Regions from separate parts of the Homo sapiens genome. Here all the other regions are linked to region 2. Evidence: fine-mapped expression QTL. A gene starts in region 2. Each other region holds a variant in brackets. All regions are shown on one strand. Distances are between the middles of the regions.

Evidence for each region.
Region 1: its variant is fine-mapped to the expression of PAX8 in testis (GTEx, PIP above 0.99).
Region 3: its variant is fine-mapped to the expression of PAX8 in whole blood (TOPMed, PIP above 0.99).
Region 4: its variant is fine-mapped to the expression of PAX8 in nucleus accumbens (GTEx, PIP 0.97).
Region 5: its variant is fine-mapped to the expression of PAX8 in whole blood (TOPMed, PIP 0.96).

Annotation. Positions count from the first base shown.
Region 1 is chr2:112,809,840-112,815,661 of GRCh38, reverse strand. No RefSeq gene overlaps it. Among named protein-coding and RNA genes, the nearest start is that of IL1B, 24 kb to the left of the region's middle. RefSeq lists an enhancer at 2,850-4,049. The variant T/AT (reference allele first, on the strand shown) is at 2,103.
Region 2 is chr2:113,275,560-113,281,381 of GRCh38, reverse strand. PAX8 (paired box 8) reads left to right here and starts at 2,461. Exons shown (of 12, transcript NM_003466.4): 1 at 2,461-2,551; 2 at 2,913-3,012. The coding sequence starts at 2,988. RefSeq lists a promoter at 1,859-2,988.
Region 3 is chr2:113,233,705-113,239,526 of GRCh38, reverse strand. PAX8 (paired box 8) reads left to right here. Exons shown (of 12, transcript NM_003466.4): 8 at 2,806-2,926; 9 at 3,945-4,133. PAX8-AS1 (PAX8 antisense RNA 1) reads right to left here and starts at 3,258. Exons shown (of 6, transcript NR_015377.2): 1 at 2,905-3,258. RefSeq lists a silencer at 3,842-3,921 and an enhancer at 4,172-4,361. The variant G/C (reference allele first, on the strand shown) is at 3,719.
Region 4 is chr2:112,729,605-112,735,426 of GRCh38, reverse strand. It overlaps NT5DC4 (5'-nucleotidase domain containing 4), which reads right to left. Exons shown (of 17, transcript NM_001393655.1): 16 at 5,723-5,800. Among named protein-coding and RNA genes, the nearest start is that of NT5DC4, 11 kb to the right of the region's middle. The variant G/A (reference allele first, on the strand shown) is at 2,832.
Region 5 is chr2:113,189,405-113,195,226 of GRCh38, reverse strand. PSD4 (pleckstrin and Sec7 domain containing 4) reads right to left here. Exons shown (of 17, transcript NM_012455.3): 6 at 2,638-2,847; 7 at 2,099-2,179; 8 at 1,857-1,969; 9 at 1,577-1,635; 10 at 1,279-1,368. Among named protein-coding and RNA genes, the nearest start is that of PSD4, 18 kb to the right of the region's middle. The variant A/G (reference allele first, on the strand shown) is at 2,521.

The sequences.
Region 1 (5,822 bases), 470 kb after region 2:
ACCACACCCGGCTAATTTTTGTATTTTTGGTAGAGACGGGGTTTCACCATGTTAACCAAGATGGTCTCGAACTCCTGACCTCAGGTGACCCACCTGCCTCAGACTCCCAAAGTGTTGGGATTACAGGGGTGAGCCACTAAGCCCAGCCATTGTACATATTTTGTGGGTATTTACTAAAACATTATTCAAAATAGTAAAAAAAAATTGAAATAAACTGGGGACTGGTTAAATAATTTTGGGTACAACCACATGATGGAATACTATACAGCCATTAAAAATTACATTGAGGCCAGGTGTGGTGGCTCATGCTTGTAATCTTAGCACTTTGGGAGGCCAAAGTGGGAGGATTGCTTGGACCCAGGAGCTCAAGACCAGCTTGGGCAATGTGGCAAAACCCTGTCTCTAAAAAAAAAATACAAAAAAAATTAAAAAGCTGGGTGTGGAGGCACACACCTCTAGTCCCAGCTACTCAGAGGGCTAAGGTGGGAAGATCACTTGAGCCGGGGAGGTCAAGGCTGCAGTGACCCAAGATCGGGTCATTGCACTCCAGCCTGGGCAACAAAGCAAGACCCTGTCTCAAAAAAAAAAAAAATACATTGAAGAATATCTTACGGTATGGATAAATATTCATTTTACAGTGATAGATGCAAATAAAAGCAAATTACAAAATATACAGTTTAATTCCAACTTTGATACTACATATGTATATATGAATACATGCATATGTTATGTATGTATATGTAAATATAACAATATATGTTCTATATATGGATATTATATATTTACACATACATACACACATATATAATATCTTCTCTAGAGAGCAGAAAGAGAGTAGACAGATAATGAAGATAGGATACAACTCCAGTCCAGCTCAACCTAGGGGACTTGTTTTAAAGCCTCAGGAGAGAGAAGTTGGGACTAGAAAGCAAGGCAGCTATTTGTAAGCATCTTTGTGTTTCATGCTATTGGGGTGGGAAACAACAGCACAACTTTTGAAAGCCCCTTTCTACTCACCCCACAAACTGCAGAGCAGCTTTAGGACCCTCAGAGTTCAAGAAGACCATTTGCAGAGTAGAAGAAGTAAAAACATGTATGAACTTGACCCTGAGCTCATGGACTGTGCCATGAGGGAAATTCCTAAAACAGCAGGAGAGGCCCTGGAGGAAGGCAGAGGCCCTGCATCAGCAAGTCCAGGCAAAAGCCTGCATTCCATAGATGCTCATCTCTCTGGCTGGTGAGGTCTAAAGACGTTTGGTCTCAATATTAAGTCTCGTGAGAGAGGTCACAAACCCAGTCCCTTGGCCACAAAAGGAAATAAATTCTGGCTTGAGACATTAGGGAGGAACAGGGCAAGGGGAGGTTCAAGAAAGTTTTAATGGATGAGATGATATTTAAGCAAGGCCCTGGAAAATGAGAATTTCAACCAATAGCCATATGGTAGGTCAGAAAGCAAAGATAAGGAGGGGGCAAGTGCAAGGGGCAACATCAGATATGACCAGGGTGTCGTGGGGCATGGCTGATGGAGAAGAAGATTAGACTGGAGTTTGGGAATGCCACAGTATCGAGGTTGGATTTAATCCTATGGGTAATAAAGCCAACTGTTCAACCCCCAACCCACTTGCAATATGGCTCCAAAATAGCAGGTGTTTGATAAAATGACTACTTTTACTCTACTATTCCCTCCCTCTTAAGAAGAAAAAGAAAGTGGAGGCTCAGAGAAAGGCAGTGGCTTGTCCCAATCACACTATGATTTGGCCACAAAACAAGAACGAAATGTTACACCCAAAAATGCTGCCTCCACCTCCCTTCCTTGCTTTCCTCCCTGCTGGACTACAGACTATCTCAAGAGTGACGTACACCATCAGGGCTTCAGCTTTTCCCCGAAACAATGCCAAAATATTAGCCATACGTCACTGTAGTAAGAGCCCTGAATCGGGAATCCCAGCTTTGACGCAGACATGCTGATTGACTCTGTGACCATTCTCTTCACTTCTCCACTCTATTCTTCCCCACCTGTAAAGTGAGGTCCTTTCCAGTTATAAAAACAGATGATGCTATTGTCCTGTTTTGTATCTAATCTTGCTGTGTTATAAAAAAAA[T/AT]AAGGCTCTGTACATTCATCTTGGCCAATTCCCTTCTTATCTCTACTTCCCACAGCCCCTTTTTGTACAGAAAACCAGCATTGTTCTTCTGGATCCATCTCTTAAGAAAGCGCTTTGCCTCCCCGGTTATTTAGGTGATAAGAAGTGTCCTAGATGACAGCCCTGGAATGGGCTGGAGGCAACAAAAAAGCAAGTGAAATAGACAGTTACAGCGACGACAATAATAACAACCAACACCTCTCACTAAAGAGAAAGAAATAAAAAAGAAAATTAAAATCTGCCGCAATGCCCACACAGTCATTGAATAGCTGCATGTGTACAGCACTTGGTTACTTTTACATACTTCATATTTTAGCCTTCAGAGCAGCTCACAGGGGTGGATTTAATTTTTAGTCCAGCTCCTGGCACGGTGCCTGGCACAAGTTTAATAAATGTTCTGTGAATAAATGACCCTCTTTTTAGATGAGGAAATCGAGGCTCAAGGAGAACAAGCAATGTAATGTCCCCCTCCTGTTCAGCCATCTGCCTTTCACGCCACTGAATGCAGTAGTCCTCCGTGCCCTGAACTTGACCCTCTTCTGCTTTTCGGACTGGTCCTTCTAATCCCGTTGTGACTCACTACACCACCTCTCCTGCATATGACGTCTACATTTTAAAACAAACCGTATGGAAATAACACATTAGTCGGCTTGCTCCCCCACCCCCGCAAAAAAAAAGGCCTCTTTATAACAGAAACTTCTCAGGCTGGTAGGGGAATTTTATTCCCCCATTTATGGTAGAAAGGCCCTAACCTTGGACCTCACGCCATAGCTATTCACATGGGGGAATGATGAATAACATGGGAAGCAGCATGTAACTCTCCTGGGCCCTAGTACAGACGAGTTACTCCCAGGCCGTCCTTTAACCATCAACCCCCTCCACAGAAAATGAGCTTTGGAATGTCTGCCCCAAATTGGGGTAGGGCTCCCCAGAACCATGGACATTCCTCATCTACTCCTTGGAAGTGGCAGGTCGGGTTTAGCACACAGTCTATAGAAAGTCTACACACATGGCAGTCATCTCTATCTATTGTGACAAATGGCTGGAACTCAAGCATACAATATACCCACTGGTTCTTCTTTTTTGACAGTGACATCAGGAACATTTGCATCTTCCATCCCAGGGAAAGGTAAAGAGAGTCAGGCCTTTAAACACAAAATTGATGGAGGCTCAGGTCTAATGAATTATTTCACTCATAGCTATTTTATTTTTCCTGCCAATAAAAATACTTAGAGACTGAGTTGGCAAATGAGAGCCTGAGACACGTGCGGGGAAATTCTGGTTCTGCTGCTGCTACTGCTACTGCTACTGCTACTGCTACTGCTACTGCTACTGCTACTGACTAATCACTCGGAATTCACTTTGTCTCCACCAGAACTCTGCCCCTACTTCCTTGGGAATTCCCCAGCACAGGAAGTTTGCAATTGCTTGATACCTTGCTGTTTCTAAGACCGGAAATGGAATATTTGTGGAACTTCCTTTGCCAGAGGAAATGGTGACCTTTAAACTTTCATTGAAAGAGAAGGAAGTGGGTGCGATACTACGGTTCCCTCTGTCAGTACTGTCTAGCAAGGCTAAGAATGATCCTTGGAGTGACCTCAGCAGAGTCCCTGAGAGACAGCTGGGCAGTAGCTCTACGGGTGTCCTGGGCCTAAGCCCCATCTGCCCTCCTCCCAACCCACCTTCCACTCTCAAGAGGCCTTGGATTCTATTTTCTAAGACCAGGAATGAAAAAGACTCAACAAGAACCTCACAGTCCCTACCTGAGCCTGCTTCCCAAGCCTGTCCTAGGGCTGTCCTTCCAACCCCCAGCCCATCAGCCTTGTGGCCTCCCTGTGTGTGGAAGGCACTTTCTTCCTGGCCACCAAAAACAGGTCCTCCCCGGACTTCAGGCTGCTCCTCATCAGCTGATGCCCTCCAGGTTCACACCTCCCAAAGTTCTCTTCCTGGCTCCAGGCCCTGGAATCCCCGTATTCAGCAATTCATCTTTGACTCCCTTCCTCTTTCCCCTCCCTTCTCTTCCCTGCCAGGAAGGCCCATTCCTGAGTGATGCCAGACATATCCCCATTTACCTCCACACCATCCTGCATTGAGTGGGAGCATCTCTTTTATCTCTGCAAGACCTCTCCATTACCCACGGGCTGGCAAGCTCTCCTCCTAAGAAGTTTCCCAAAGCAGATGCTTTATAGAAGCAGGAAAGGAGAAAAGGAAGAAGAAAGGGAGGGGAAGCTACTTTTTTACTGAATGCCACATGTAAACAATATATTGGGTCATCTGAACTTACCGAAGTACAAACCAGAAATGGCATTATTTTTTTCCAGTAACTGCCTTCAAACGTACTCTATCAGACCCCCCTGACATCTCAGGTCACTGCAGAACTTTCTGTTAAATAACTTGCATATATGAACAGTCTCAGAGGCCAAAAAAAAAAATAACAGCTATGCACTCTTGCACCTAATTCTGTACTTTTCGCCAAACGCCATTAAAATATTATAACATTAAAGGGATATTTAAATTCACGAATCCACAAGGATGGGGAAAACAAATGAGAAGACAGCAAGAGTGAGGGAGAAGGGGATACATTTCTTTGATCAATCAGGCAATTCCCTGGCATTCACATCACCGAGTTCATATTTGCAGTAGCAATTCAAGAGTTCTGAGCCTCACACAGGAGTATCTTTAAGAAAAAAAGAAAAAAATTTTTGGAAGGCTGGAAAGCAGTTGGGCAAATGGTAGCTGATCCTAAGGACCAATCGACATCTAGTACCTTTGGGAGTGGGATCACAGAGATGGTAAAATAAAAAAAGATTGCATGAAAGCTGGTTAAGAAATAGAAACACTTGGGCCGGGCACGGTGGCTCACGCCTGTAATCCCAGCACTTAGGGAGGCCGAAGCGGGCAGATCACGAGGTCAGGAGATCGAGACCATCCTGGCTAACATGGTGAAACCCCGTCTCTACCAAAAATACAAAAAAAATTAGCCAGGTGTGGTGGCGGGCGCCTGTAGTCCCAGCTACTCAGGAGGCTGAGGCAGGAGAATTGCTTGAACCCGGGAGGTGGAGCTTGCGGTGAGCCGAGATCGCACCACTGCACTCCAGCCTGGGCAACAGACAGAGCGAGACTCCGTCTCAAAAAAAAAAAAAAAAGAAAAAAGAAAGAAAGAAATAGAAACACTCCCCCACTCCGCAAAAAAATACATTCTGTATGTTTCCATTTATACAAAACTCTAGAAAATGTAAACTAGGCCAGGAGTCATGACTCATGCCTGTAATCCCAACAATTTGGGAGGCCAAGGAGGGAGGGCTGCTTGAGGCGAGGAGTTCGAGACCAGCCTGAGAAACATAACAAGACCCCATTTTTATTTAAAAAATTTTTTAAGCCAGTTGTGGTGGTGTACCCCTGTAGTCCCAGGTACTCAGGAGGCTGAAGTGGGAGGACCACTTGAAACTAGGAGTTCAAGGCTGCAATGAGCTATGATCGCACCACTGCACTCCATCCTGGGCAACAGAGTGAGACCTTGTCTCAAAAAAAAAAAAAACCCACAAAATGTAAACTAATCTATAGTGACAGAAAACAGGTGGTTGTTTGCTTGGCAATGAAGGAAGGGAGGAGAAGGAATTAAGAAGAAGCTTGAGGTAACTTAGGAGGTATATTAGTTCCTTGTCACACTGCTATAAAGAG
Region 2 (5,822 bases):
AGGCATATGATTTTTATTCTTAACTAAAAGCATCATGGATTTTAAGTTTGAAAAAATACTGTGATAATAGGTGATTTTAAAAATATATGTATTTCAAACCTTTCGTTTTGCAGAGGAGGAGACTGATGCCAAAGAGACAGAGTTAAAGCACCAGTTAATGACATTTCCTTGGCCTTGGTCTCAGAGAATTAGGAAGTACCAAGGAACCCAGGCCTGATTTCTGATTCTAATTAGAAGCAGGGTCAGTCCAGGAGGCCTGTGTTTATCTCTGCAGCAGAAGTTCACTGCATTCTCACTTCTTGCTCGTCCTAGATCTTCTCTGCTGAGTCTTCTGGTCACCTGCTATGTCACCTGCAGTCTGGAGAAGAGGTACTGTCAAGGTGTGGGGTGTGTTTTTCCCTGAGGAGTAACCTTGAACAGTGCACATTGTTTTTACCTTGAAATGAAATTTTAAAGATAAATTTATACATGGGACAGGAATGTTCTGATAACTTGCTGGATTTGTCCTCTAAGAAATTTTGCCCAAAAAGGGGATAGGAAAGGGAGAGGGTTCATTGCTTGGGCAGAAAAGATGTGCACAGGCAAGAATGATTGCATGAGAGTCAATGGTTATTGGTACGTATCAGAACCTTAGATTGGGTAGAATCTCTAAGGTTGTCAGAGCTGTTTGAAATGAGGGCGTATTAGATTCACCCTGGAGCATTGCCTCCCTGGTGGGAGGGAATCCTGGGTGGACAAAGAGAGTTTCTGCTGTGGCTGCCACACTCCACACCTCCCCTGCAGCAGGACACAATCCAGGGCAGCAAACTGGCCCATGGGGTCCGGAGGACCTATGCCAAGATCCATTTCCATCCCAACACCCTTGGATTGTCTCTCTCTGGGAGGGACTGCCAGAGAAGTTAGGGATCTGGAGCTTTGAAAACCACAGAGATATTTAAAATTACAATTTTAGAGAAAGATTTAAAATGATGAAGCACCAACTATTTTTGTTTACAGCCCCTCTTTGCAAATGTGGAGGAAACATGTAGGGATACACATCTTCTTCTCTCTTTTTTCACAAGATGATTCATTTCTCCTAAATTGAGAAATGAGAAAGACTGGGTGGAAGGAGGTTGTGGATTGACATGAAAGAGAAAACTTTTTTAATTCAGAAAAATAGTTCATGTGTTTTCACACACGTGTACATATGTGCATACACACACACACACACACACACACACACACATCCAATCCCCCTGAATATCCCAGTTTCCCCTGCACCTTCCTTGCCCCCCTCCCACTGGCTTCTTAGCCTCCTGTCCCAGAACAACCCCACCAGGCCTGCAGAGCCATCACTGAAAAGGGCATGGCTGTCCTCTAGACTGTAATCCTGAGTCCAGAGGTCTGGCCAAAGATTGGAGGAGCATCCAGGCCTTGACCCCCAGGCCTGCCAGTGTTCCAGGACATTTGCTCACTCATACCCACTCACAATCTTACGTGTACCCCGGTTCCCCGACTGAGAGAACTATGAGGAAGGAGGGGGCAGCTTTTGCCATCACTAAGGTAAAGAGGTGCCAGGCAGCTCTGCTCGGTCCCAGGGCTCACCAACCCTGCCATCATTCCCACCAGTGGACCCCTTCTTAACCACACCCAGGCCCCCATATTGCTGAGGCTATTGATTCCTACAGACCAGGCCAGAGGTCAGCTCAGTCCTGTTCCTTTCTAAGGCCTTTCCACACAGAGATGAAGTCTAGGCCCTCAATGCCCTTCCCCTGAACTCTTCTTCCAAGTTCAAAATCCTCAAGGAGCAAGAAAGAGGGCAGGTGGCTGCGTGTGTGTTCCAGAGGAGAGAGGCGAGGAGTTGCTGTGGAATGGGTTATGTGACAATTTTGTTAGCCTGACAATGCAAGGGTGTGAACGCTATCTGTGTAGAACAGAGGGAATGGCTTCAGGTGCTGCTCAGGATTCTTCCCTGGAAGAGGTCATAGCTGTGGTGAGAAGGTAATAGCATCTTGCCTACAGCCCCGAAAGCAGGCTCTACCTAAAGAATCAGGCATAAAACAGAAGTTCCCTCCTTCCTTTTACAAAAGAAAAGGCTGCTTCCTGGTGAGCAAACCAGGGGAGACAGGGGGCAAGGAGGGCATCCTACAGAGACCATCCCTCTCACTTCTGGTGGTCAGTGACCCAGGAGGACCCAGAGAACCTCATCCTCAGGCTCCTAGGCCTCTGTTCCCCACTCCTCCAATATTTCCAGGCCTGCTGAGTTAGGGCTCAGCTGCCTCCCTCTTCCCTCCGCTGGAAACAGAAGCTCCCAGCGAATGTTTCTAACTCCTGAGTCCACTCAGCCATGTCCCCCTTGCAAAATCCTCCCCTTCCCGCACCCCCCTGCACCCAGCCAGCCAATCCGCGGCCTACGAGCCTCGCCAGACCCATCTCCCAGGGCCTCAGCGGGATAAAACCGGTCGGTGATGCCGGGTGGATGGGAACAAACTTCAGAAGGAGGAGAGACACCGGGCCCAGGGCACCCTCGCGGGCGGACCCAAGCAGTGAGGGCCTGCAGCCGGCCGGCCAGGTATGTCACCCAGGGGTTAGCTGGAAGCTGGCTAGCAGTGAGGACGGGGGATGGAAGAAAGGAGAGGGTCCCAGGATGCCTGGCAGCCTTTTCCCTCCCAAGTTAAACGGGATAAGACTGGGACAGCGGAGGGAGTGGGCACGGAGGTTGGAGTCTGGAGCTTCTTCAGCGCACTCCCAATCCTTGATCCTCCCGGGAAGCCTGTTAGCTAGGCTAGGCTGAGGTTGGCCCTACTTCGCCTAAAAATCCTCCTACTCCTGGCAGACGATGCAGGTGTAAAGGATGAGGCCTGGGGAGGGGGCCTGAGGATGCAGGCATCGAATCTCATCGCATCTCATGCCCTTCTCCTGGGTTTGTGCAGGGCAGCGGCAGGCGCGGCCCGGACCTACGGGAGGAAGCCCCGAGCCCTCGGCGGGCTGCGAGCGACTCCCCGGCGATGCCTCACAACTCCATCAGATCTGGTAAGAACGCGGTGTGGTCAGGATCCCCGAGCCCCCGCGCCGCTGAGCGTCCGTGCGTGCGCTCGGGTGGTTGGATCTCGAGAGCGTCAGCACGGGATTCGCGGGACCCACCCGCGTGGGGACCCAGCTGGGGCGCCTGGGGCCTGGCCCTCCGCTGGAGCCGCCTCGCTGTTCTCGGGCACTGGGGTTCCACCCGGCCAGCTGAGCCGCCCTTGCCCGGTTTCGAGGGACCACATGGATCGGTGAGGGGATCTCTGTGGAGTTAGAGGGGGTTTCCTTTGAGCTCCATTCCCAGCCTTGCATGGCGCATTAGTGTGGACATTCTTCGTGCTCTGTCCCTGGGCTGCACCGGTGCTGGACTTGCCGTTTCCCCGTCCCCGACCTCTAAGTCCTCTTCCTCGGGTGCGCGCAGTCCTTCCCAGTGACTCCCCTGGCTGGACTGTGAGCTCCCCGCATCTCTCAAGCCAACGGCAATGGAGCCGGTGGTCCCGGGCCCGGGAGCCGGCAGCGCACTCAGGTGCTCTCCGACTCCTCCTGGCCCAGCACCGGGCAGGCCGGGCGCCGCGCGCGGGGCGTCCGGCTGGTGAGGACTAAGCCGCTCGCGGAGTCAAAACCCCCTCCCCACCTGCGCCCGGAAGCAGGGCCTTCAAACACACTCGAGCTCCCAGGCCGCGATGCCTGTTTTCCCCCTTCCCGGCCAGGGCTGGGCAGGGTCTTTGCTGGGAAGGAGCTCCAGGGTCAGGGCTGGTGGGCGCAGCCGTCCCGGCGCGCAGCGAGTGCGGACAGCGGTGGAGGCGCAGCGCGGCCCGCAGTGATGGATGGAGCCCGGCCGGCCGCAGAGAAGGCGATTTATGGGGCCAGGGCGCATCGCTATCGATTTGGGCCGGCGAAGTGAGAGGAAATCAATATTTCAGAATGAATTCTCCGCGAATATGATGTCCCGCTCTGCAAACGGGACATTTGTTATAATAAGGAGGGTCGGATCGGGCGCGCAGCGAGGCTGAGATCTCTATTTAGCCAAGCGCACTGCGGGGGCCCGGGCTCTGCGGCGCAGTCTCCAGTCCCAGGGCCATGGCCCAACTAGGAGGGGAGCGGGAACCCCCTGGGGCGCCGGAAGATTTCTCACTCGGGTTCTCTCTAGAGCTGCAGACGAATGCTCCCTCCCGGCCCCCATTCCCCTCAGAGACCTGGGCCAGAATCGTCCGGCTGCCCCCAGAAGGCGCGGGGTCCCTTCAAGGTCCTCAGGGGAGAGACCTCGCAGCCATTCCCCGGCGCGGCGGGGTTGGGGAGCCCTGGGACCGAGCAGAGCTCCCTGGCACCTCTTTACGGTCCGCGTCCTGGAACCACGAGCGCTCCTAGGCCACTATCTAAGGTCAGGATCAGGTTTTAGTCCCTTAATCTTTAGCCAAACCGTGGTACGATACCAGACATCGCCAGGACCATCCCTGAGGCCTAATGTGCAGTGCCCGGTGCCCATGCCAAGCTGGTGCAATGGCACTTCTGCGCCAAGCTGGTGCAATGGCACTTCTGCTCGGCTCTGGAGGTCCATCTTTCCTCCTAACCTTCCCCTGACCCTTCCGGCGGTGGCAGGAGGAGTGAGTGCTCTCGGAAATCAAATTCACTGTGGCCGGGCTGGACCCTTACTCTCTGCCGCTGCCCAAGAAATGAGACGATGTCCCCGTCCCTCAGATGAGCTTTTTTTTTTTTTCGCGGCTACTTATTTTCATTCTAGAAGTACTCGTTAGAATAGATGGAAATAGAGTATGGAAAGAATAAATAAAGGCACAATTTATTTTTACTGTAGTTTTAATCAGGAACAGTCCCAGATGATGAGATGCGCGCTTTCCCACTAGCTTGGATGCAAATCGCGCTTGGGTTTTGGGAGGGAGCCCTCTGCCCCTGGACCTACCAGGTAATTTTTTTCCCCTTTCTTCTTTTCGGGAAGACAGAGGGGCTTCTTCTACCCTCTTTCCAAAACAAATAGACAAAGTGGCGAGGGAGGGAAGATGAGACTTTCTTCTCATAGTTTAATTTAAACGCTAATAAAACAAGAAAATGGCCTATAACCGCATAGACTGCTGAAGGCGCTCCCTGTTTCTTTTCTGAACCCTCCCTCGGCAAACCTGAGGGAGAGGCCGTCTGTCTTTCTGATCAGCTTACCTGACACTGTTGTCTATAACCGGAGCTAAACTCATAAGCGGACCCCTCTGGTTTTTACAAGCCCATTATCTCTCGGGTTTTAGCAGGTTCCCCCTTTTCCCCAGGCACCTCTGTTCCTGAGACCGGCCGTGCTTAGGGAGCTCCCCTTGAGTTTTCTGTGAGCAGAGCCCGGGACGCAGGCGGCCACACGGCTTTCCGCGGGAGCGAGGCCGAGCGCACCCTTCCCAATAACCGGGGACGCTCGAGAAAACCTCCCCGCGCGGCCTCCGCCGCCCAGCCTGCCACGGGGTCGCCTCGTCGTTGGCTGGTCTTGCCTTGCAGAGAGTCTTAACGTTGTCTTTCCTACAGCTTTATTCTGCAGGAATGTTGAACGCGAATCATTTTAACGTGCGCAGGTCAGCGATGGGCTGAACGTTCCTTAAAATCGCTATTTTTGTTGCATCAGGGACGAAATTCTCTAAAGCAAAAACATTTTTAAAAAAATTCAAAGATGCAGAAGAAACGATAAATGCCCCATATATATAAAAGTGAAAACAATACTGTACCAATGAGGAAGAGAGTTTTGTAAAAGCAAGCAGGCTGGCTGTCATTAAAAGTTATCTTAAATAACTTGTCGCAGCCCACTCCCACCAGTCCCGAAAATAGTTCAT
Region 3 (5,822 bases), 42 kb after region 2:
GTAACTGACTGTGCTGCCAAAGTAACACTCCGTGCTCTCTCACCTGGGCATAGGAATGCCCTCTGGCTTGGGGAGCCAAGAAAGAAGCACAAGTATTCATACCTGACCTTAGGACAGGTTGTAACACAGCTATCTTTTCTGCAAAATCAACAAGTGGGGGACCAGGCATGGTGGCTCACACCTGTAGTCCCAGCACTTTGGGAGGCCAAGGTGGATGGGTCACCTGAGGTCAGGAGTTTGAGACCAGCCTGGCCAACAAGGCAAAATCCCATCTCTACTAAAAATATAAAAATTAGCCAGGCCTGGTGGCGTGCACCTGTAATCCTAGCTACTCGGGAGGCTGAGACAGGAGAATCGCTTGAAGCTGGGGGGCGGAGGTTGCAGTGACCCGAGATTGTGCCACTGCACTCCAGCCTGGGTGACAGAGCGAGGCTCCATCTGAAAAAAAAAAAAAAAGGGCAGGGGGAAGTGTTCATCAGAAACATCATGTGGCCTTATTCCTGGTTGCTATTTCATGACCAGACATAGCTAGAAGTCATACAGCTCTTGTTTCCCTATTTTACAAATGCATCAAAAAAAATCAACAGAATATGAATATCAGTTTATTGACAGAAATCAAGAATTTGGTGGCTTCTGACTCTTCACGATTCTGAAATAATATCTGTGATAACTCTCATTGGGCATCTGCTGTCACCAAGTATTCGGTGCTAAGCACATTATGTATAAGTATACAAAATTTCATGTAATGCTTACGTCAGCCTCATAAAGTAGAGTCTATGATTCCCATACAGGTGAGAAAATTAAGGTTCAGAGCAGTCAAGTAGACTAAAGCTACTTGGCAGGTCATTGCAGAACCAGGGCTCAGAGTCGCTGAAGTTCTGAAGCATTGTGCTGCTCTGCCCCGATTCAAGTTCAATTCCAGCTAAAAAGCCCAATAATCACTGGGAAGTTTCAGTCATTGAATACAAAATCACCAAAAGATTTGACTATATAGGTTTTCTTTTTCCTTTTTTTCTAAGTTACTTGGATTTTGAAATAGCTATAGGATTCTGAGTAGATATTTTGCTGTCAAAACAACACATCCATAAAGCATTTTAAACTTCTCTTATACGCTCTAGAAATTAGGTATTTTGTTCAATTTCAATAAGACACACCCTGGCCAGGTGCAACGGCTCATGCCTGTAATCCCAACACTTTGGGAGGTCAAGCCAGGCAGATCATGAGGTCAGGAGTTTAAGACTAGCCTGGCCAACATGGTGAAACTCCTGTCTCTACTAAAGATACAAAAAATTAGCCTGGCATGGTAGCACGCACCTGTAATCCCTGCTACTCGGGAGGCTGAGGCAGGGGAATCACTTGAACCCAGGAAGCAGAGGTTGCAGTAAGCGAAGATCGCACCATTGCACTCCAGCTTGGGCAACAAGAGCAAAACTCCGTCTACAAAAAAAAAAAAAAAAAAAGGCCCTAAGCAACTCCACCCTGCCTCTAAGTGGGCCCCCTTGGAAGGCATGGAACCAGAGCACCATTTAGTCAATAATTGCTGCTATGTGCTAATGGTGCCCTGGTGGCCTCCAGAATTGACTGCAGCTTCCAAAAGTGCCCAGCATGCAACCGGAAAGTGCTGTGGATCTTTGCAGAACCCAGCTCGATGGAAATCACTGAAAACAATTGCCTTTAGTGGCACTGTTATGTAACTACTGAGCATTCCCTGAATTCAGCTTTGCACATCTCACGTAGCAGGTATGTGACGAGTGTGAAGGTATGTGGGGAATGGGTGTGTTCTTTTTTCTGCGCTATCTGCTTCCCCAGTGGAAGGAGGCCATGGTGAGGATGAGGTACACTTACCTTTAGTTAAACAAGTTCTTTTCGGAAGGAGTACCTAAGGTCATAGCTGTGCTCCTGGGAAGGGGAGGCCAGGAGGCATCTAAAATGAGGTCTTACTGATGAAGACCCCCAGGTACTTGACAAAGAGTGTTTCCAACAAAAACAACTCTCAATACCATTTTCAAGCCGAACTTGCACACTTCTATTTGTTTGGATGTGGAGAGAGAAAAGAAGAAATCCACGTGGTGGGTAAAGCACCTGGGTCCACAGCCGAAAAATCCCGGGTTTAGTCTGTTTCACTATACAAAATTGGGCCATTTACCTGAGTTCCAGGCTCCACATATAAAACACAGACATAATATTACTCACCCATGTCACTGGGCTGCTGGGGGACTCTACTAGGACAACAGAGGCAAAGCTCTGATATAAGCTCTTTGCAAATGTAAGAAGTGGTCCTTATGTCACCCAGTTTAGGGCAGTGGTTGAGAGCAGACACATTCTGATCCCTCGAATCTGAATCCTATCTTTGGCCCATCTGGAAGTGGGACAAGTTTCTTAAACCTTTGTGCCTGGGTTTCCTATCTGGGGAAGAATAAATTAACAGATGCAAGGACCCTGAACAGTCCGGTTGGAGACTGCTCCAGTCCTTGGCACCGTCCTGCATTCTGTGGGTCCCAACAGTGTGGTGAAACCAGGAAGCCGACCAGCCATCCAACCAGGGTGTGGTCCTCTGGCTGAGACTCTCTATCCCACGTCTGGGCACCCATGCTACCAGCTGGCCTTGAATTCCAGGGATGCGGGAGGACAATGAGCATGAACGAAACGTGCCGAGTGGAGTTGAGAACGTAAAGGAAGAAGGGGGCGATGAGGACCTCTCCTGGGGAGATGAGGGCTGCCAAGTCCTAAGACACAGGCTCAGGGTCTGCAGGAAGGTCGGCTTGTTGGATCGTCTCTGTGCGCTGACTTCTCTTTGCTCCCCAGGGCCTCTACCCGCTGCCCTTGCTCAACAGCACCCTGGACGACGGGAAGGCCACCCTGACCCCTTCCAACACGCCACTGGGGCGCAACCTCTCGACTCACCAGACCTACCCCGTGGTGGCAGGTACAACGCCCGGAGCCTCCCTGGCAGGTGGAGGGCGGGGGACTGAAGAGCTTGGCTGGCTGTCAGGCGGAAGGTGTGGGGCCCTGGCCTGGAGAGGAGAGGCGGGCTGTGCCGGCCGGGCCGCCAGGTGGGCCCAGGGGTCGCGCCTCCGGTCCTAGGCCGGGCCTCAAGGTGGGCCGAGGGGTCGCGCCTCCAGTCCTAGGCCGGGCCTCAAGGTGGGCCCAGGGGTCGCGCCTCCGGTCCTAGGCCGGGCCTCAAGGTGGGCCGAGGGGTCGCGCCTCCAGTCCTAGGCCGGGCCTCAAGGTGGGCCGAGGGGTCGCGCCTCCGGTCCTAGGCCGGGCCTCAAGCTGGGCCGAGGGGTCGCGCCTCCGGCCCTAGGCGGCTCCCGTAAGGTGGGCCGAGGGGTCGCGCCTCCAGTCCTAGGCCGGGCCTCAAGGTGGGCCCAGGGGTCGCGCCTCCGGTCCTAGGCCGGGCCTCAAGGTGGGCCGAGGGGTCGCGCCTCCGGTCCTAGGCGGCTCCCGCAAGGTGGGCCGAGGGGTCGCGCCTCCGGTCCTAGGCCGGGCCTCAAGCTGGGCCGAGGGGTCGCGCCTCCGGTCCTAGGCGGCTCCCGCAAGGTGGGCCGAGGGGTCGCGCCTCCAGTCCTAGGCCGGGCCTCAAGGTGGGCCCAGGGGTCGCGCCTCCGGTCCTAGGCCGGGCCTCAAGGTGGGCCGAGGGGTCGCGCCTCCGGTCCTAGGCCGCTCCCGGGTCTCCGCGCTCCCTCCTGTGGGAGAGGCGGGCGCACACACGCCTTCC[G/C]GGTCTCTCCATTTTCGCTGCAGAAGCGCAGCAGGGAGGTCTAGCTTCTCTCTCCCCGCCTTGCCACGCCTCGTGGGCCCCGGCTCTCCCCAGCCCAGACTCTGAGGGCAGCTGAGCCTGCCCCGCGCCCCGCCCGCACCCTCCACATCCCACGGCTTGGCTTGTGCGTGTTCCCTCCCCGCCATCTCACACCCCTCTCTCCTTGTTGTCTCCCTCCCTCCGGCAGATCCTCACTCACCCTTCGCCATAAAGCAGGAAACCCCCGAGGTGTCCAGTTCTAGCTCCACCCCTTCCTCTTTATCTAGCTCCGCCTTTTTGGATCTGCAGCAAGTCGGCTCCGGGGTCCCGCCCTTCAATGCCTTTCCCCATGCTGCCTCCGTGTACGGGCAGTTCACGGGCCAGGCCCTCCTCTCAGGTACGACAGGGAGGTCCCGGGGCCATGCAGCTATGGCGGCGGGTGGGACGGGGGTCCTCAGGGCAGACCGCCAGCCCCCTCTCTGGCCTCAGTCTCATCCACCCCCACCCTGTTCCCTAATTCCTCCGGCAACTTTTGGAGGCGCCAACATGAAGTTCTCTGTGACGGGGAAGACATGCTCGGAAGGGGCGGATGCTGTAGGGGTGCCGGGGATGCACCACCCCAAGACCCCATGGAAAAGCAGGAACCCTAAGGCCGGGAGCCGGGTGCTGTAACGTAGCAACTTGGCCTTGGTAAATGCATAAATAGATAGAAGGAAAAATGAACATTTTGGAGGGAAAAAGGAATTGGCTTTTGGAGCCCATTTCTGGATCAAATTTCTAAAAAGGCCAAGGGTCAGTCCCAGTTGTGTTTCCATGATGCAGCTATCTTCATTCCTAGCTTAACAGCATCACCGGGAGGACAGTCAGACATCTGTTAAACATGATAAATTCAGTGATTCAACAACTTGAGAGGAGTGGGGGACCTCCCATCAGGAACCTCAACTGCCTCAAAATATTTAAAGCTGGAAGCACCGACCGGGCGAGGTGGCTCACCCCTGTAATTCCAGCAGTTTGGGAGGCCGAGGCAGGTGGATCACAAGGTCAAGAGTTCAAGACCAGCCTGGCCAAGATGATGAAACCCCATCTCTACTAAAATTCAAAAAATTAGGGGGTGTGGTGGCAGACACCTGTAATCCCAGCTACTGGGGAGGCCGAGGCAGGAGAATCGCTTGAACCCAGGAGGCATAGGTTGCAGTGAGCTGAGGTGGCGCCATGGCACTCCAGCCTGGGTGACAGAGCAAGACTCCATCTCAAAAAAGAAAAAAACAAATAAATAAAAATAAGTAAATCTGGAAGCACCTGAGGGAGCCTCTAGATCAAACCTCTTATGCTGATGAGGAACCTGGCCCAGGGAGGAGAAGGTCCCTGCCAAGGTCTCTGGGCAGGAGCACCATCTGTAGCTGGTTGAGGCCTGGGCCTGCACTGCATGAGTCAGACCTCAAGGGGAGCTGGCTCCTCCTGGCAGAAGGACCTTCGCTCATCCAGCCAGGGCCTGAGGAATGGCTGAGAGTCAAGCGCTTGGCTTGGGTTGGAGAGGGCCTGAGATGCAGTGAAAGTGGGAAGCAGAGACCCATATGGTCTTCAGATACCTCAAGGGCTTCCACAGGGATAGGACTATTTTAGATGTGGGCCCAGTGGGGGCCCAGGACCAGGGAAGGAAGCCAGCTAGCTCTCAGTTCAGCATTGGAGGAATCTCTTTAATAGCGGCACTGTCTCCAAGGAGTGTGGGTATTTAGTGACAGAAGTAAATGCCTCTTCACCTCCCACACCCTCCTACCCCGACGACCTTGAAATGCTGGAGCAGAGACCAGTGCGTGGGTGGGGTGTGTGAGACCTGTCACAGAGGCAGCCCAGAGTCAGACAGTCCATCTGGACCAGTGGTTTCAAATTTGGGCCTCTCAATGCTCTCTTGAAATGAAGCCTTTTACAGAAGACATGTATGCTCACCAGACCCCTGAAGAACTGCTCTTTTAGAAGGGGTCCCTGCCCCTAGAAAGCCCTTGGACTTCGAAACCACTGCACCAGAGGATTAAGACCTCTACAAGCCCAGAGTAACCACAGGGTCATGTGATAAAAGTCCCTGGAC
Region 4 (5,822 bases), 550 kb after region 2:
GGCATGATGGTTCACATTTGTTAGTGCTCACTATGCCAGGCACTCGGCTGAGTCTTTTACATACTATAAAATACTGTTCCTGAGGCTGGGCATGGTGGCTCATGCCTGTAATCCCAGCACTTTGGGAAGTCGAGGCGGGTGGATCATTTGATGTCGGGAGTTTGAGACCAGCCTGGCCAACATGGCAAAACCCTGTCTCTACTAAAAATACAGGCGTTATCCAGGCGTGGGGGTACGCACCTGTAATCCCAGCTACTCAGGAGGCTGAGGCAGGAGAACTGCTTGAACCTGGGAGGCAGAGGTTGCAGTGAGCCAAGATCATGCCACTGCATCCCAGCCTGGGTGACAGAGCAAGACTCAGTCTCAAAAAAAAAAAAAAAAAAAAAAATGTTCTTGCCTCCCTGGCATGTACTCCCTTTTCCAATAAAAGCACCCCAGACTGGGTGCGGTGGCTCACGCCTATAATCCCAGCACTTTGGGAGGCCGAGGTGAGCAGATCACTTGAGGCCAAGAGTTCAAGACCAGCCTGGCCAACGTAGTGAAACCCTGTCTCTACTAAAAATACAAAAATTAGCCAGATGTGGTAGAGTGTGCCTGTAGTCCCAGCTACTTGGGAGGCTGAGGCAGGAGGATCACTTGAACCCGGGAAACAAAGGGTGCAGTGAACTGAGATCACACCACTGCATTCCAGCCTAGGCGACGGAGCAAGACTCTGTCTCACAAAAAAAGCACCCCAATTTCCCTACTACCACCCATTTCCTGCTGACAATCTACATGGTTAAGAAGAATGGACTCAACCCCAGTATGCGCATGTGACCCAGTCCTGGCAAAGCCAAACTTGGCATCTCCCTGGCCAGTGGCATTGATTGGAGGATGGGATAGTGTCACAACCAGTGAGGCATCATTTCCCAGACTTTCATTAGAAAGATGCTTCCTGGTAGAGTTGCTGAAAAGATAAAGATAGAAATCTGGAGTTTGGGAACAGCCATCTTATAACCTCATGGACAAAACCTGCCAGAGAATAGTACCAACATGGAATAAACTTGAGAGTTGGAGAGAGCAAGCTATGTCCAATGACATTGATTTGACTCCCTGGTTAATGCTATGCCTGGAGCTGGGCTAACCCTGGACTTTTTAGTTATATGAACCAATAAATTCTGTTTTTTCTCAAACCAGTTTCATTAGGTTTCCTTCAGTTGCTAAAGAAAAAATCCTGACTAATGTACACACACACACACACACACACACACACACACATATATATAATAGCATAGAAAACACTTATTTAGTGCTTACTCTGGCCAAGCTCCATGTCCGTTATCTCACTATATCCTTATAATAGCTTTATGACATGGTTATGGAAATAGAGTAGTTAATAAATGTCAGTCCTGCAATTTCAAAGTCAGGGCTGTCTGGCTCCAGGTTCAGAACTTTTAACTCCTATCTCTATTTAAAGTAAGGAAATGAGGACTAAGGTGATGATAAGGAAACACATCTGAGCAAGATAAATTATTGAACTGTTCCCAGTTTACCAAGCAGGAATCACTGTGACAGCCAAAGTACTGTCATTTATTCTACAAATAAATGATCACATTTTTACCACTAGTTCACTACCACAGAGATGCTGCTTCTGTTCTCTTCATTTCCTGACTGCTCAAGACGATGCCAGAATGAGGATGTCAGTTCAGCTGCTGTCACTAGTCCCAAATGGAAATGCATCTCTCTCACATCAGCCATCCAAGTGACAGCCCAATGCTAATCTACTGCCAAGCCCAGCCTATGTCTGTCTTGTGACTCCACCATCCCTTGGAGGCAGCCTCGTCCATGTGGCCAAAGAAGGCTCCCACCCAACTTCACTCTCCAGCCAGCTGGAAGGGGGAAGAGAGGAACGGGAAGGTATGCCCCTCCTGAGGTCACGGATTGGAAGTTGGACCATTACTTCTGTCCAGAATTTAGGGGCCAGAACTTGGTCCCATGTCCCCCCCTCCCACCCCATCTAAAGAAGCAGGGAAATGTGTATCAGATGGCCACATGCCCAGCTAAAAATTCTTCCAGAAATGGGAGATGAATGTCAGTGTCTGCACACAGTCTTGGAAGCAATGGTGTGCTTCTGTCCCTAAGGTATAGATAAAACAGGAGTGTAGAGGTGACATTAAGTTTAAAAAAAAAAAAAAACTACCCAAATAGAAGTATCTGTCCTACCTCCTACCCATGAGGTAGGACAGATACAGAATTAGGAGTTTGTCTAAGGATATGAGTTTTCTCATGAATGTGTCTGGGTAGGAGGTAGCATTCTAATCCAAAGCCCTATATCCTTTCTCCACTTTCTTTTTTCTCATATTCTTTGTCCTGCCCTTTCCCTGCAGTTCTACAAGAGTAATAATAAACTGGGTGACATGTGTCTTTCAATAAAATACACAGGTACGTAGATGCCAGAGACACAACGGTGAGCCAAAAGGACATTACCTTTTGGAGCTGAGAGTCTAGTGAGGACACGTGTTAATCTAGGAACCACAAATGCAAGACTCCAAGTCCTGAGAAATAGAGGCCTATGAGCGAGGGACTAAAGAGAAACTGGTCTAGTCAGGGATCTTCGCTGAGGGGAGAGCGGAGGTAACAGGGAGAAGAGGCAGGGAATGGGCCAGACATAGGAAAAGCACAAGAAAGGCCCTTTGGCCACCTCTCTCCTTTCCCTCGCTAGGATCCCCTAAAGCATTTCTGCCAGATTGTTTATCCCTCAGTCCTTTTCTGTATCCTCTCTACCCTGGGTAGGAATTCTGAGATTTGACTTTTGTAGTGTTAGCTACCACACTATATTTCAGGACCTTTCC[G/A]GAAAAGTATGGGCTCTAGGGTCTGAGCAGTTTTTCTGATAAATACTATCCTTTAGCTCTTGACTAAGAATCAAGCGTTTAAAGACACAGGCCAGTGAGACCTGGGATTTACTGGAGAACCTGCCCCTGTAAAGACACAGGCCAGTGAGACCTGGGATTTACTGGAGAACCTGCCCCTGTAAAGACACAGGCCAGTGAGACCTGGGATTTACTGGAGAACCTGCCCCTGTAAAGACACAGGCCAGTGAGACCTGGGATTTACTGGAGAACCTGCCCCTGCAGGCTCTGGGACCTGAAAGTCAAACCAGGGAAAGGAAGAAAAGGCCTTGGCAGTGTCAAACCTGGAAGCTTCTGAAATGCAAAGAAGATGTTTTAAAAAAAAAAATGCCAGGCTCGGTGGCTCTCGCCTGTAATCCCTACACGTTAAGAGGCCGAGGCAGGCGGATCACTTGAGGTCAGGAATTTGAGACCAGCCTGGCCAACATGGTGAAACCCTGTCTCTACTAAAAATACAAAAATTAGCCAGGTGTGGTGGAGTATGCCTGTAATCCCAACTACTCGGAGGTTGAGGCAGAAGAATTGCTTGAACCCAGGAGGTGGAGCCGAGATCGTGCCACTGCACTGCAGCCTGGGTGACAGAATGAGACTCTGTCTCAAAAAAAAAAAAAAAAAAAAAAAGTAAACTCTCTGATTCCATGGCCCGTTGTCCCTTATTTATCCTCAGGTATCTAAGTGTTGCCATTGTTTATCCACAGAAAATGAAGCTAATGAAGTGTGTCCTCAGACCTGTTCCTTCAAGGGTTTACTTTGTCATTTCAAACATGCAGATTCAACCTAGGTCTCCACAGAATGCCAGATGATACCACTAACAGACAAAAAGTAAACTGTAGGAGTAAACTGAAATCAGTGACATCAGAGCAATGATGCTTCAGCACTTTAATACCACAGAGAAGCTTCTAACACATTCGAGAGTCAAGTTTTAAAATCATGAGTATGACTTTTTATGTGTTTTAATGTGTATACACAAACTCAAAGACATTTGGGCTATCTCATTTAACATCTTTCGTAGTGACCCAGAATGAAAGAGCAGTTAGTGAGGCAATATATAGCCAATCAGGTTTTACTGTTCTTACTAGTAACAGAATCAGAAGTGCACAGAAATAACTATTTTTTAAAAGAAATGTTTAGAAATAAAATTGGATATGAGACATCATGCGTTCAAGAGAAGTAGGTAAAATAATTTCACTTGTGCACACGTTTCCAAACGTCTCAAAGACCATTGAGGATGCCTTCTAGGTTAAGAGCAATACTGCCTCCTCCCTAAAAGAAGTGTTTGCAGGCTCCAAATCTGCTGCATTTAGGAGATTTCAATACAGTTGCTTTTTCCTTTTTCCATACTTGTGTTATCTGAAAAATATCTCAAGTAGAAGATGGCCCGTGATGCCAGCCCATGTCCAGGATTCCGTCAGCCTCGATGTAACTTTCCTGATCCTCGTTTCTCTCTTTGCCCTAACCCTTATAAGAAACACAGAAAGTGACTATGGATATTTTCTTCCCAAGCTCACACAGTGACGCCCAACCAGGGGTAGATAATGTGTCAAAATGCCCTAGGCTGGATCCTGATGGGGTGAGGATATAGAGGGATCAAACCACAGGCTTCCCCAGCAAGCCTCTGTTACTGACAGGAGTGTGTCCATCTCTCTGCTGGGCTAGGATAGAAAAACAGTTGCCAACCACTGATTAAAGCCTGTGAATGCACTTGAATTTTGAGCTTCTCCTAGGCAGGAATGAAGTAACTTACACTTTATTTTCTAAACTGCCCGGCACACAGGAGGTGCTCAGTAAATACTGGTTGAAAGAACAAACACTGTGCCTGGTACAACCCAGCTAAAGGGGACCTATGGGATACACATCTTTTAAAGTGAGCCCCCAGAAAGCCAAGGGAGAAAGAGGAACATTTATGCAGGGTTTTGGGGGTGCAGAACCCAACGAGGAATCCAGGCATCCACTCCTGTCTCAGCTCAGACGCGGGTCAAGCCTCACAAAGTGTCAAAGGGATCTGAAGCTAGAGCCACTAGTCATTAATGTTAACAAAGCCTGTCTGGGGAGGAAGCCTCAATGTGGAAGAGGGCACATCCTGCAACTTCCCCTGGAGGGAATAATGTGTATGGATTGGCCAACAGCAGTCCGTAGGGGTGCAGGGCCCAACAGTGCACAAAGCACTGCTGAGCAGAACCTGTCGCCCTTTTGGATCCAACTGTCGCTTTTTTTTTTTTTTTTTTTTTGAGACAGTCTTTCCCTGTTGCCCAGGTTGGAGTGCAGTGGTGCAATCTCAGCTCACCGCAACCTCCGCCTCCTGGGTTCAAGTGATTCTCCTGCCTCAGCCTCCCGGGTAGCTGGGACTAGAGGCTTCCACCACCATGCCCAGCTAATTTTTGTATTTTTAATAGAGACGGGTTTTCACCATGTTGGCCAGGCTGGTCTCGACCTCCTGCCCTCAGGTGATCCACTTGCCTCAGCCTCCCAAAGTGCTGGGATTACAGGTGTGAAACACCACACCTGGCTCCAATATCCCATTTTAAAAACAAATATTTAGCTTCTACTTTTCCATCCTGAATTGAAATTCATCGATACAATTATCATCTCTATAATTTAAAGTATCAAGATAATACTCTAACAAAGGAGAAATAAAGAGAAAAGCATTTTACAATAAAATAATACGCATTTTTACATAAATAATGAGGAATGACTATGCTTGCAGACAAAAACAAGCCCACAAGCCCCCCCACCAATTGCCTCATGCGTCCTGGGGTTGATACAACCCCACTGGGAACCACTACTCTAGCCCATGGGACCCCAAGCCACAGAGTTCGTCGGCCACAGCCACTCACCCTCTGGTTGCAGGAGAGGAGGCAGGAGGCAGGGTCTAGATTGGCCTGTTCTTGCTCCACAACTGACTCATGTGGCATCTGTAGGGATAAATGCAGGTGG
Region 5 (5,822 bases), 86 kb after region 2:
ATCACACCACTGCACTCCCGCGACAGTGCAGGATGAGACTCCATCTCAAAAAAAAAAAAAAGATGATGACCAGGGCAGACAAGTCCCTGTCCTGCCCATGCTTACTGAGGCCTTAACTAGTTCTCATGGAGGAGAAATGAATTACCTACATGGCATTCTACTGGGAGGGATCTGATGGAGAAGAAACTGGCTGACCAATCCCCACAATAAATGTGCAGTAAATGAATGAATGATGCACTAAAAGTTTGACATATTAACGTAGATGTTATCTCGCTTGCTTCTATAGCTCTTGCGGTGCCTAGCAAAAAGTCTGGCACATAGTAGGTGTTCAGTAAATGTTCATGAAGTACAGCCATGTACCATATAACAGCATCATGATGGTTCAGTCAAGGATGAACTGCATACATGATAGTGGTCCTGTAAGGTTGTGATGGAGCTGTCCTATACAGATGTATCATTTTTAATCTTTTCTATCATGTGTTTATTGTACCTTTTCTATGTTTAGATATACAAATACAGCACTGTGTTAGAATTGCTTGCAGTATTAAGTACAGCAGCATGCCATACAGGTTTGTAGCCCAGGAGCAATAGACTATCCCATATAGCCCTGGTGTGCAGTGAGCTGTACATCTAGGTTTGTGTAGGTTCACTCTATAATGTTCACACAATAGTGAAAATGCCCAACGATGCATTTCTCAGAACACACCTTCATCGTTAAGTGATGCGTGACTGTGATGAAACAGCAAATGATTTTAATTGCTTATGACACACATGCTATGTGCCAAGCACCGTGCTGAGCACTTGGAAGATTTCATTTCATCTTGATAATGGCATGGTAAGTGGTTAATACTCTCAGGAAGAACTTGAGTTGGCCAAGAGGGGGCAAATTGCCCAAGACTAGAATTCAAACCCAGGAACACCAGGCTCCCAAGTCTGAGCTCCAGACTTTCACCATGTGTAGCTTTGCCCTTCTCAGACTTTGAAGGGGTAAGAATGACTTGAAAACTTAAGAAAATATTTTAGGGGTCCCAGTCTCAGAGAGTCTGATTCAATAAGTCCAGCACAGGGAGCCTGCAGATTTGCATGGATAACAAATTCCAAGATGCTTCTGATGCTGCCCGCCAGGGAATACACTTTTACTAGCCCTTCAATAAACAAGTCCTGTTCTCTCAAGGATATTTTGGCAAAGCCAGTCCCAAGCTCAGCATCTCCCTTGGAACAAAGAACCAAGGCTCCAGGTCCTACATGAGGCTCATAAGAAGACCCCGTGGCACATACCTTCAGCAGCTCCTTGGGGAAGTTCCCGCCATCCCTCAGCCCATTCAGGTTGGTTATGAATTCCTGGCAGCTCATGCTCTTCCCAATGTTCTGTAGCCACGGAGAAGTGGGATGACTCGAGCACACACCCCATCCCAATAGAATAACCTCCCAGCCAGCAACCATGGAACCCTTTCCAGCTCCCCAGGCCCACATCCCTCAGGGGTGTTCCCTGCCCGGTCTCAGGCCTCTGGTCTTCTCCTCCCCGCACCCCTTGTTACAGCCTCAGTTCCCACAGGGACTCTCTCCACCGTCTTACCTGTCCATGCAGGTCCGTGTTAAGCAGCATGATTGCACATGTCAAGGTGTGTACAGAATCTACCCCAGAGATAGGTAAGTGGAGAGAAAGCTCATTGGAACCAGGGCTCCTGTTTCCTCTGCCCACACTGCGTGGGGTAACCGAATAACCCCTGGAATGCTTCCATTCTCCACAGCCCCCAACACACTCCCACCAGTTCACTGTCACCTACTGAACTCCCAAGCAGACATGGGCACCCCAAAGTTTCCCTGCTTTGCTGTCAGGGCCAGCCCCTCCCTACCTACTGAGGGGAAGATCCCCGGATTGCAATGGTGGAAGCGTCTGGAGAACTGGTAGAGGATTCGCTCCCGTTCCTGAGTCTCCCCACTGAGCACCAAGGCCTGGAGGAAGCTCCTGCAAAGGAGGGCCAGGGTCAAGGAGAGAGCCCGGGAGCTTAGGGCCAATCAGATCCCAGCCTCAGGCTGGTGCCACTGCCCCATGCCATCCTCCACAGCCTCCCCAGAGAGGGCCCAAAGACATTACCGGAGGGCTCGGTCCAGACTCTGGCCTCCAAACTGGAAGAAGGACAGGTACTCCTCAGCCACAGCCCTGCTAAAGTCATTGCTGCAGAGGGAAAAGGGGCATGGAGTCTGCACCAGGGGCCTGGGCTGGGGCTGCAGATGCACTGGGGCCCCCAGGGCCTGCACACATTATGCGGTGGGGGTGAGCAAGGGAAGGGTGCAGGCACGCTGGGCCTTGGGTCCTGACAGAGCAAGGGGGCAGCCAGGGTCTGGTATGCCCTGCTACCCTATTCAGTGTACACTGGGAGACACTGGGAGAGACCTGTGGAGTCTGGTTGGCAAGGCAGTGGGGACCAAGGACCAAGGGTGTGGAGAGCATGAGGACCATGACTGAGAGTAAGCAGCAGATACAGTGAGGGTATGGGGGAAAAGTTAGGAGGGGAG[A/G]TGGGAAGGGAACAGGGCAGGGACGGGAAGGGGAGGGTGGCCAGTGGAGGGAGCCCTTCAGCAGCTCCTCCCTGGCTGCCTCAGCCTCCAGCCTTCCCCAGGCTCAAAGCCCCTTACTTCTTCTGCAGGTAGGCAGCCACTTCAGACTTCCGGAAGCCCTCCAGGCGATAGAGGCGTGAGGCCAAGTTCCAGGCTACCTTGTTGTTCCTGACGCCATTAGCTAGCTTGTCTCCAGCTGGTGGTCTCTGGCCTTCCTCTGGGGACTGTGCTTGGGGCATAGGGCTCCCAGGAAGCCAAGAAGAGTTCATCGGTGTCCTCAGATTCTCACTTGAGATAGACATGCAGGAGCTCTGGGTCAAGTGTTCTTGCAGGTCAGTTGTGGCAAGAGTTCCCCGAGCTCAGCGCCTTGAATGGTGGGGCCCGGAGGAGCTGGACCCAGGCCCTTACTCAGGGAAGAGACAGAGTCACAGCCAGACTGACTTAGCCTGGCCTGGGACCAGGAGAACCCCGAGAGGAAGGTATTCATGCAAGGTCTCCAGGTCTGGGGTCCTGCGCTTTCTCAGGTAAAGCACAGCCATGTTCCGAGTTTATCTCACCTCAGGTGGCAGGTGCATCCCTGTGAGGCCCCTAGCGTTGTTTTCTCCAATGCAAGGCACGTGGGATTGTCTCCCTCACCTGTCCTGTGGTCCTCCTGTACCTCCTTGTCCCTTCCCCACCTCCCAGCTCTGGCTCTAGCCTCCACTCCTAGATCTGGAGCCAAGAAACCTGTAAGGATGAGCTGAGAACAGGAAGCTAGGTGGGCTCTAGTAATGGCAGCAGCTGGGGTAGTTCAGGAGGTGGTCCTCAGCCTCTCCCTTCCCCCACCTAGCAGCCTGGATGACAAGGAGACTGAGTGGTGACCTATGACCTAGTGTGAACAGGCCTGGGTGACCCCCAGCCGACTCAGAACCTCCCAGTCCAGCACTAAGACTCTCAGATGTCACTCAATCCAATCTAAACCTGACTCTTCTGCTTCCCCGACAACATTACAATCAAGTGTGGGGTATTCCAGTTATTTAAACATTCATTATTCAAGTGATACAATTAGGAAGTTGAACTGGTAAGCAGAAGACATCATAATATGAAAACATTCCAGGGGCCTGGGCGCAGTACTCAGCCTGTAATCCTACTGCTTTGGGAGGCCAAGGCAAGTGGATCACTTGAGGCCAGGAGTTCGAAGCCAGCCTGGCCATCATGGCGAAACGCTGTCTCTACTAAAAATACAAAAATTAGGCAGGGTGGCACATGCCTGTAGTCCCAGCTACTCAGGAGGCTAAGGCAGGAGAATCACTTGAACCCAGGAGGCGGAAATTCCAGTGAGCTGATATTGTGACACTGCACACCAGCCTGGGCAACAGAGCAAGATGCCGTCTAAAAGAAAAAAAAGAAAACAATCCCTGATAAACAGATATATAACATTAGAATTCACTTAAACACCCTCACTATCTAACACAGCTGGGTCAGGGTTAATGGGAGGGTTAACCCCATGCCCATCACAAGGTCTTTGGGTGATGGTGACAGAATGTCAATCAGTGCCAGAAACCAAAGAACCATCTTCCTTATGCATCTGGAAACTAGGCTGCCCCGTGGAGAGGTTCAGAGGCTTGGTAGCCAGAGAAGTTCCAGCCTCTGAAAAGGGAAGTTTCTTCATGCCAAAAATTAAAGTTCACCCAACCCAAAATAGAAGTAACTAAATCTAACTAAAATGAGAACATACTTTCATAGTAAATAATGAAAAGGTTTACTTGGAGCTTTATCTTGGTAAATGTACAAATAAGTTTATTTAAATCTTATAGTAAACACAATGCCTAAAATTTAATTTTCCCAGCACAAGTTTTCTGGCTGGATAAGACATCTTGCATTCATCCTTGATTTTCACAGTAAGATCATAAAGGCCATTAAAAACAGTAACAGGCTGGGTGCAGTGGCTCATGCCTATAATCCCAGCACTTTGGGAGGCCGAGGTGGGAGGATTGCTTGAGCTCAAGAGTTGGAGACCAGCCTTGTGGTCTGCCTGGGCAACATGGTGAGACCACATCTCCATAAAAAATAAAAATAAGTAAAAATTAGCTGGGTGTAGTGATACACGCCTGTGGTCCCAGTTACTTGGGAGGCTGAAGTGGGAAGATCACTTGAGCCTGGGAGGCTGAGGCTTCAGTGATTCATGATTGTACCTCACACTCCAGGCTGGGCAACAGTGTGAGATCCTGTCTCAAAAAAATAATAATAATAACAGCTGTTTTGAAATAGAATTCACATACCGCCCAATTCACTCATTTAAAGTGTACAATTTACAGCCAACTGATCTTCAACAAAGCAAACAAAAACATAAAGTGGGGAAAGGACACACTTTTCAAAAAATGGTGTTGGGATAATTGGCTAGCCACAAGGAGGACACACTTTTTCAACAAATGGTGTTGGGATAATTGGCTAACCACAAGAAGGAGAATGACACTGGATCCTCATCTCTCACCTTACACAAAAAACAACTCGAGATGTATTAAGGACTTAAATCTAAGACCAGGAACTATAAAAATTCTAGAAGATAACATTGGAAAAACCCTTCTAGACATTGGCTTAGGTAAGGATTTCATGACCAAGAACCAAAAGCAAATGCAATAAAAACAAAGATAAATTGCCAGGACTTAATTAAACTGAAGAGCTTTTGCATGACAAAAGGAACAGTCAGCAGAGTAAATAGAAAACCCACAGAGTGGGAAAAAATCTCCACAATCTATACATCTGACAAAGGACTAATATCCAGAATCTACAATGAACTCAAACAAATCAACAAGAAAAAAACAAATAATCCCATCAAGAAGTGGGCTAAGGACATGAATAGACAATTCTCAAAAGAAGATATACAAATGGCCAACAAATATATGAAAAAATGCTCAACATCACTAATGATGAGGGAAATGCAAATCAAAACCACACTGCAATAACACCTGACTCCTGCAAGAATGTCCATAATCAAAAAATCAAAAAATAGACGTTGGCATGGATGAGGTCAATAGGGAACGCTTCTACACTGCTGGTGGGAATATAAACTCATACAATCACTATGGAAAACAGTGTGGAGATTCCTTAAAGAACTAAAAGTAGAACTGCCATTTGATCCAGCAATCCCACTACTGGGTATCTACCCAGAGGAAAATAAGTCATTATAAGAAAAATATACTTGCATACACATGCTTATGCTTATAGCAGCACAATTTGCAATCACAAAAGCATGGAACCAACCCACATGCCGATCAATCAAT